Homo sapiens: one gene and its partner. The protein of the gene in region 1 purifies or fractionates together with the protein of each later gene. This does not show direct contact. Each region holds a gene or a part of one and is shown on either strand. Other genes may lie near its edges. The genes, in order: CYP3A7 and ODR4.

Region 1 (4,404 bases):
TGTCTTTCTGGGGTGAGTATCAGTTTCTGCAGGAGTGCTGAACCTGAGAAAGAATAAAGAGAGAAGGAAGTGAACAAGCACAGCTTAAACATCATCTGTTTCTACTGAGTTTTAACAACTCTGAGATTTTGTTTGTCATGGAATCCATTTCTCAGGCCAAGCAGACACAGAACTTGGGTGTGAGTGATGATAATGAGCTGATATAATTTTCACACCCTCATCACTGAGATCTCTCCCATCAGGAATGGGTCACAGGGCTCACAGGTGGCAGCAACTGTTATTACAGGCCTCATCTCTACCAGCTCCTGGCACCTGCTCTCCTCCCATTAGAAAATCCTCCACTTGTCAAAAAGGAAGCCATTTGCTTTGAATTCCAATTCCACCCTCAAGAGGCTGGGACCACCTCATTGGAGTCCTTGATGCTGTGTGACCTGCAGTGACCACTGCCCCATTGTTGCTGGCTGAGGTGGTTTGGGTCAACCTGGCCATCTGGGCAGCTGTTCTCTTCTCTTCTTTCTCCCCTACTGTTTCCAGACATGCAGTATTTCCAGAGAGAAGGGGCCACTCTTTGGCAAAGAACCTGTCTAACTTTCTATCTACGGCAGGACTTTTGAAAGCTACAGAGGAAGAAGCACAAATTGATGCTATTCCACTAAGCCATCAGCTCCATCTCATCCATGCCATGTCTCTTTTTTAGGGGTCCTCTTGCCAACAGAATCACAGAGGACAAATCTGAAAGTGCAGAGACAGCAGCTGAGGCACAGCCAAGAGCTCTGGCTGTATTAATGACCTAAGAAGATGGAGTGGTCACCAGAAAGTCAGAGGAAGTGACACACAGGGGCCCAGCAATCTCAGCCAAGTCAACTCCACCAGCCTTTCTGGTCCCCACTGTGTGTACAGCACCCTGATAGGGACCAGAGCCATGAGAGTGAGTAAGACCAGACTATGCCCTTGAGGAGCTCACCTCTGCTAAGGGAAACAGGCCTGGAAACACACAATGGTGGTAAAGAGGAAAGAAGACAATAGAACTGCATGAAGGGGATGGAAAGTGCCCAGGGGAGGAAATGGTTACTTCTGTGTGAGGGGGTTGGTGAGGAAAGACTCTAAGAGAAGGCTCTGTCTGGCTGGGTATGAAAGGATGTGTAGGAGTCTTCTAGGGGGCACAGGCACACTCCAGGCATAGGTAAAGATCTGTAGGCATGGCTTGTTGGGATGAGTTTCAAGTATTCTGGAATGAGGACAGCCATAGAGACAAGAGGAGAGTTAATAGATTTTATGCCAATGGCTCCACTTGAGTTTGTGATAAGAACCCAGAACCCTTGGACTCCCCAGTAACATTGATTGAGTTGTGTATGATTCTACATAGAATATTAACTCAATGGAGGTCAGTGAGTGGTGTGTGTGTGATTATTTGCCAACTGCCGAGGTGGAGAAGCCTCTTCCGACTGCAGGCAGAGCACGGGGGCCCTGCTACTGGCTGCAGCTCCAGCCCTGCCTCCTTCTCCAGCATATAAACAATCCAACAGCCTCACTGAATCACTGCTGTGCAGGGCAGGAAAGCTCCACACACACAGCCCAGCAAACAGCAGCACGCTGCTGAAAAAAAGACTCAGAGGAGAGAGATAAGGAAGGAAAGTAGTGATGGATCTCATCCCAAACTTGGCCGTGGAAACCTGGCTTCTCCTGGCTGTCAGCCTGATACTCCTCTATCTGTGAGTAACTGTTCAGGCTCCTCTTCTCTGTTTCCTTGGACTTGGGGTGCTAATCAGGCCTCTCTTTCCCTTATCTGTTTTGAATAGCAAAAAGGATGTTCAGGCTGGCCGTGGTGGCTCACACCTGTCATCCCAGAACTTTGGGATGCTGAGCAGGTGGACTGCCTGAGGTCAGGAGTTCAAGACCAGCCTGGCTAATATGGTGAAACCCCATCTCTACTAAAATTACAAAAATTAGCTGGGCATGGTAGTGCATAACTGTAGTCCCAGCTACTTGGGTGGCTGAGGCAGGAGAATTGCTTGAACCTGGGAGGCGGAGGTTGCAGTGAACTGAGATCATGCCACTGCACTCCAGCCTGGGTAACAGAGTGAGATTCCATCTCAAAAAAAAAAAAAGAGAAAAAAAAGAAAAAAAAAGATTTTCAAGGAGAAGTAGCTTAAGTGTTGGATGCTACAAACATATAGAGGTTATGATGGATGTTTTGCAGATCTATAAAGGAATAAATAAGCATCTCCCCCATTCATCTTTAGTGGAAAGAAGGGTTTAGGGACAGCATTGATTGAGGATAATCTAATAGACAATGGTTTGTACCCAGCTTACCAAACCAGAATTTGGATTTTACATTTTTCCCTTTAAGTTGCAGGAGAAGAGGGTGAATCTTCTCACCAGTGAGATCCTGGCATCCTAGAGCAGGTGGAGAGAAGAGTCACTCCCTACTGTGTGTACTGGAGGCTTCCCGCCTGTCACATTTTACTTCTAACTCAATTTCACAGTTATTAAGAGTAAGGAATCATGGTCACATGGAAACAGAAAATACAAACCTCGTTTTAATTCTTTCACAGAAAAGTTAGCAATTCAGTGAGTTGTGGTAACATAGTTTCCATCTACTGGCAATTTAACATGAATTGGTGTGGCTTAAATTCATCCTTTTTAAAGCCAGATTTTTTTGGAGATAGACTATTTCCAGCATGTTCCTTCTGAGTGATAAAAGAGGGCTATTAGTTCAGTATTTGTGACAATAAATGTGTATAAGATAACCTCACCTTTCCAGAATAATGTCAGGAATATGAGTCTAATGTACAAATATATATCTCTAGGACAAGACTGCATATGTCTTTTTAAAAATACTTTCCCAAGAGTTTATTTTAATACCCCCATTTCAAATACACCTGCTTAGCAGGTTATCCTAAACTCTCAGGGCTAGAAAGTAAGCAAGACTGTGAGCCAGTGATGATAGCAAAAGCATCCAGGTAGGATCAAGATGAAGTGAGAAAATATTCCTTACCCCTCAGGGTAGAACTCCAAATAGATATTCATGGGTCCTGGCCCCCTAGTGGAGGTCACTTGAAGGACAAACATGTTGGCATCTCATCTGCTTGAAGCCTGGACACAAGGGCACCATCAGTGTCACTCTGTGTGTGGCTGGCCATGTTGTGGGGCTGTCACTACAGATTCTGGCAGTCAGGCAGACAATACCTTAGCCTTAGACGATGCCGGTACAGCCCAGGATTCAGAAGCTATAGTGTAGACCATGCCCTTCTTAGGCCTATACAATTACATGCAATAGATGATGGATTTTTCTGTTAGCCTCTTCATTGTAACAAAAAGCAGCATTACTCTACCAAACAGAGGGGAGCTGGAAAGAAACTAAACAGTTTGCCAAGCACAGCCTCTGCCTTGACGTGGAATCATGTGAATCTAGACACTCACCTAGATCTTTCCTCGGGGGCCAATGCTGCTCACACATTAACTCAATAGTTTGTCCTGGCCTGAGAGATCATGTAACATGTAGAAAGTTTAGAAGCAGAGATTAGTGCCATTGATTTTCCATGGCTGTGACAACAAAGGAAGGAACAGGAGTGGGAAAACCCAAGGCCACCCTGGTTGTGGTAGATGGTGCACACACTTCCACTAACTATTCTGGGGCAAGGATCCAAATGCACTATTGGGCCTGGCTATGCTGTCTCTGCTGGGTTCTCCAAACACGAGCCTCCATGCTGTTTCTTAGTTGTATTTTACCACATATTATCAGAGTCACTGGATTTGTACAGAATGTTTGGAACCTATACTGCCTTAATGGCTACCCTTTAAAGAAGAGAAAACAAGGTCTTAATTCAACTATCTGGAACATTTTATGGTTACTTATGTGGAATACTCCATCTTTTGCTATCAACAGGAAGGTACCTGGCCATTAGAAGGTGCCTGCCTTTCAGCTGAAAGCACATATGAGGCATATGGATCCATTTATACACACCGTACTTTTGAACCACATTTTCCTAATTTGCCTGTCTGGGGCCAAGCTTGTGGGACTAGCAGATTCATGGTTGAATTGATGGCTGGCTACCTCTTCCATCAACTTTTCTGCTTCATCCAGTCTTCCACCCCTCAGTAACCTCAAACTGGGAAGGTCTTCAGATATCCAGAATCCCCAGTTGGGGAAGTCCATACATGGCCCATCAAAGATGGGTTGCAAGCAGGCCTGCTATAGGGAGCAGCAGCCTTGATGGGTTTTCCTACAGAGACAGTTGATGTGCAGACGCAATAAACTGACTGCTTTGTAATTGATCACCTTGAAAAAAAATGAGCATGTCTGGCTGTATTAGTCTTTTCTTCCATTGCTATAAAAAAAAATCTCAGGGTGGGTAATTTAGAAAGGAAAGAGATTTAATTGGCTCATGGTTCTGCAGGCTC
Region 2 (3,818 bases), on another chromosome or scaffold:
ATTTCATTTTAAGCTTCTAAATAGTTCTGCCTACCTATCAGCAGCTTGGAATGAAATCTGAACACGTCTGCAACTTTTGCATGCATTCACAGCCCTTGTTTTCTCTCTCTTTTTGACAGCTGCTCAAGAATACTCTTAACATGATCAGTTTTCGATTTGTCTGAATTTGAAATGACTTGGTTTTAAGGAATGGTTGAGATCTAGTGTTCTATTGAATCACTGTGTTATTTGCATTTAAATTTCTTGTAATATATTAAAATATTGGTGAAATAACACAGTGCCTGAGATTTGGTTTAAAAATCCTACAAGCCCCCACCAAAAATAAACAGACAAATAAATTGCTGTGATAAGGCCTTATTCATTATTGAAAAACATTCTGCTTCGGTAAAATTATCTCAAATTTGTATCAAACCTCATGATTTTGTATGACAGATTTAAAAATGGAAATAGGGCAATGAAATGTCTTTTATGAAAGTAAATTATTTGCTCAGAGTACGATCTTCTAGAGCATGATCTTCATATGTAATAATTCAATATTAAATATATAAGTAATATATTATGACAACTAAAACAATTTTGTTTTTTTATATGCAAGTATTCAAGTAATAAATTTCCTATAGCAAACAGGTATAATTCATACCATCCATTATTTTTGTTTGTTATCTGATATAAGGATTTTATTGGCCCAAATATGGGGGAAAAAAACAAAAACCTTTTTTTTTTTTTTTGAGACAGTCTTGCTCTGTTGCCCAGGCTGGAGTGCACTGGCACTATCTTGGCTCACTGCAAGCTCTGCCTCCTGGGTTCACGCCATTCTCCTGCGTCAGCCTCCTGAGTAGCTGGGACTACAGGTGCCTGCCACCATACCTGGCTAATTTTTTTGTATTTTTAGTAGAGACGGGGTTTCACCATGTTAGCCAGGATGATCTCGATCTCCTGACCTCGTGACCTGCCCGCCTCGGCCTCCCAAAGTGCTGGGATTACAAGCGTGAGCCACTACGTCCGGCCAAAAAATACCTTTTTAACAGAGATATTTGCTCATAGAAGAGCCGAAGTTTGTTTTTGTTTTTATTTGATGTAAAATTGTATGAGCCATTCAATTTTTAGACCTATGGACTGAAGTTGGAAGAAATTTTAAATTACTGAGCTAATATAGTCTAGAACTGAAGTATTATAGCCCTTGAGAAAACTACAAACTGGAAATATAGAAGACTAGATATTCCTAGAGACAGTTCATAAGAATTTGTTTTTCTTTGTGACTGGTTTGATATGAGAATAGAAAAAAAAAGGGGGGAGGGTTTTTTTGTTTTTTGTTTTTAAAGTATTTTAGTTAAATGCTAGAAGAAGAAAAAGAAAAAAGAATAGTGGTGCCCTTATTTCTAATAAGATAGTTACTAGGAATTGTTTATGAAAATCATAAACTTTTCTTTGTGAGAAATTAATGAGAAGTAGGTAATTTTTTTTCTTTTTCATCCATTTTAGTATCATATATACCTATTTCAGTAAGTTTATATGTCATTCTTTTGAGCTTGTGCTCCCATATTGGGGTGCAAAGATGTCTATAAGAACATTGTAAATTCAACAATAGGCTATTTTACTTTAAATTTAAACAGTAATATTTACTATCTCTCTTGAGTTCTCTCTCTCTTTTTTGTGGGGGTGAGGGTAAATAAACAGATAAATCTAAAGTAGTTGCTTTCATAATCTAGTTCCCTGGAGTTCTATAGAGTAGCATTCTAATGTCACCTCTAGGATGGAAGAAAGAAGCTGGTCTGACTCCAGGAGTCCTCCCTCCCAGCTTCAGCCTGGGTAGCATACTTTCATCTTTTTTACACACTGGGAATTTCTGTCAGATTTTCTTTGTTTTCATAGGATTCTTCAGTCCTAGGGGAAAAAAACAGAAAACTATTAGCCTGTGTGGTCTCTGAGGATGCTATCAGTTCACACACTTTCATTCAGCATTAAATAAATTCGGATAGGCCAACCTGCATAAATTGCTGTCAGCATAATGAAGTAGAAAGAGAACTTGTGTCCAAATCATCAGTCAAATGCCTGTGATGGTCGAAATGCACTTTAACCTCCCAGGTTATGTTTTCCATTTGTAAAATGCGATGATGTCCTTGCCTTGCTTACCATTCTGAGTTGTTTCAAGGTCAAATTTTTGATCATAGTTTCAATTTCAAGTTGGATCCAGAGTCAGCAAACTTTTTTTTGTACAAATAAATATTTTAGGCTTTGTGAGCCGCATAAGGTCTTTTTCACATTTTTTTTTTACAGTCTTTTAAAAATATGAAAAACAGATTTTTAGTTTAAGAGCTTTTACAAAAATAGGTCATGAGCCAGAGGCCCATGTACTGCAACGTGCTGGTCAGTGGTTTTATTATTAATATCTAATTATTTGAAATTATTAATTGCTAAAACCACCAATAATGATATAAATTAGACTGGGCATGGTGGCTCACACCTGTAATCCCAGCACTTTGGGAGGCCGAGACAGGCAGATCACTTATAGTCAGGAGTCCGAGACCAGCCTGGCCAACATGGTGAAATCCCATCTCAACTAAAAATACAAAAATTAGGCCAGGTGTGATGGCTCATGGCTATAATCCCAGCACTTTGGGAGGCCAAGGTGGGCAGATTACCTGATGTCAGGAGTTGGGGACCAGCCTGGCCAACATGGCAAAACCCCATCTTTACTAAAAATACAAAAGTTAGTCGGGCATAGTGGTGCACCCCTGTAGTCCCAGCTACTCGGGAGGCTGAGGCAGGAGAATTGCTTGAACCTGGAAGGTGGAGGTTGCAGTGAGCTGAGACCACGCCATTGCACTCCAGCCTAGGCAACAGAGCAAGACTCTGTCTCAAATAAATAAATTAAATTAAATTTAAATGCAAAAATTAGCCAGGTGTGGTGGCAGGCGGCTGTAATCCCAGCTACTCAGGAGGTTGAGGCAGGAGAATCACTTGAACCTGGGAGGCAGAGGTTGCAGTGAGCTGAGATCATGCCACCGCACTCCAGCCTGGGTGACAGAGTAGGATTCTGTCTCAAAAAAAAAAAAAAAAAAAAAGTAAATTAATCTCAAGAGCGAAGTTTACTCTGCTATGAATTTTGGTATAAATTTATCTCTACTACTATATAGTAAACAAATTATTATTATTGTTACTTTTTTTTGAGACAGAGTCTCGCTCTTTCACCCAGGCTGGAGTGCAGTGGTGCAATCTCGGCTCACTGTAACCTCCGTCTCCCGGGTTCAAGCAGTTCTCCTGCCTCAGCCTCCCAAGTAGCTGGGACTACAGGTGCACACCACCATGCCCGTCTAATTTTTTGTATTTTAGTAGAGACGGGGTTTCACTGTGTTGCCCAGGCTGGTCTTGAACTCCTGAGCTCAGGCACTCTGCCTGCCTCAGCCTCCCAAAGTGCTGGGATTACAGGCGTCAGCCACCATGCCTGGCCAACAAATCACAATTTTTGAAAGTCATTCAGAACTGGCTGTGTGGCCCTCTGGTTTAGTTCAATGATAAAGCTACATTGTTTTGAAAACTGTTAATTTGACGTATATTCTATTAAATTTAATTCACCTACAATTGATAATGAACAAATTCAGTATGTTATATAAAAAACAAGTAGAAAGAAAATGGTGATGATCGTATAGTTTTTTATAATGTTCTTTAAAGCTCAGTTTCATGTGTTAATCCTTATTTTATGTGGAATTTATTATTATTATACCCTTTCAGCTTGTATGAGTTCTTCTATGAATAGTCAAGCTTCATTGGACAACACAGATGATGAACAACCAAAACAACCAATTAAAACTACAATG

What was found.
Region 2: the proteins of CYP3A7 (region 1) and ODR4 purify together in Homo sapiens (affinity purification with mass spectrometry, with the first as the bait; one large-scale study listed by BioGRID). This does not show direct contact.

Annotation. Positions count from the first base shown.
Region 1 is NC_000007.14:99,732,331-99,736,734, reverse strand, and holds the start of CYP3A7 (cytochrome P450 3A7), read left to right. Parts: upstream 1-1,538; 5' UTR 1,539-1,641; coding exon 1,642-1,712; intron 1,713-4,404. Other genes in the region: CYP3A7-CYP3A51P protein, read left to right, coding at 1,642-1,712. UniProt on the Homo sapiens protein: A cytochrome P450 monooxygenase involved in the metabolism of steroid hormones and vitamins during embryogenesis.
Region 2 is NC_000001.11:186,413,812-186,417,629, forward strand, and holds part of ODR4 (protein odr-4 homolog), read left to right. Parts: intron 1-3,732; coding exon 3,733-3,818. UniProt on the Homo sapiens protein: May play a role in the trafficking of a subset of G-protein coupled receptors.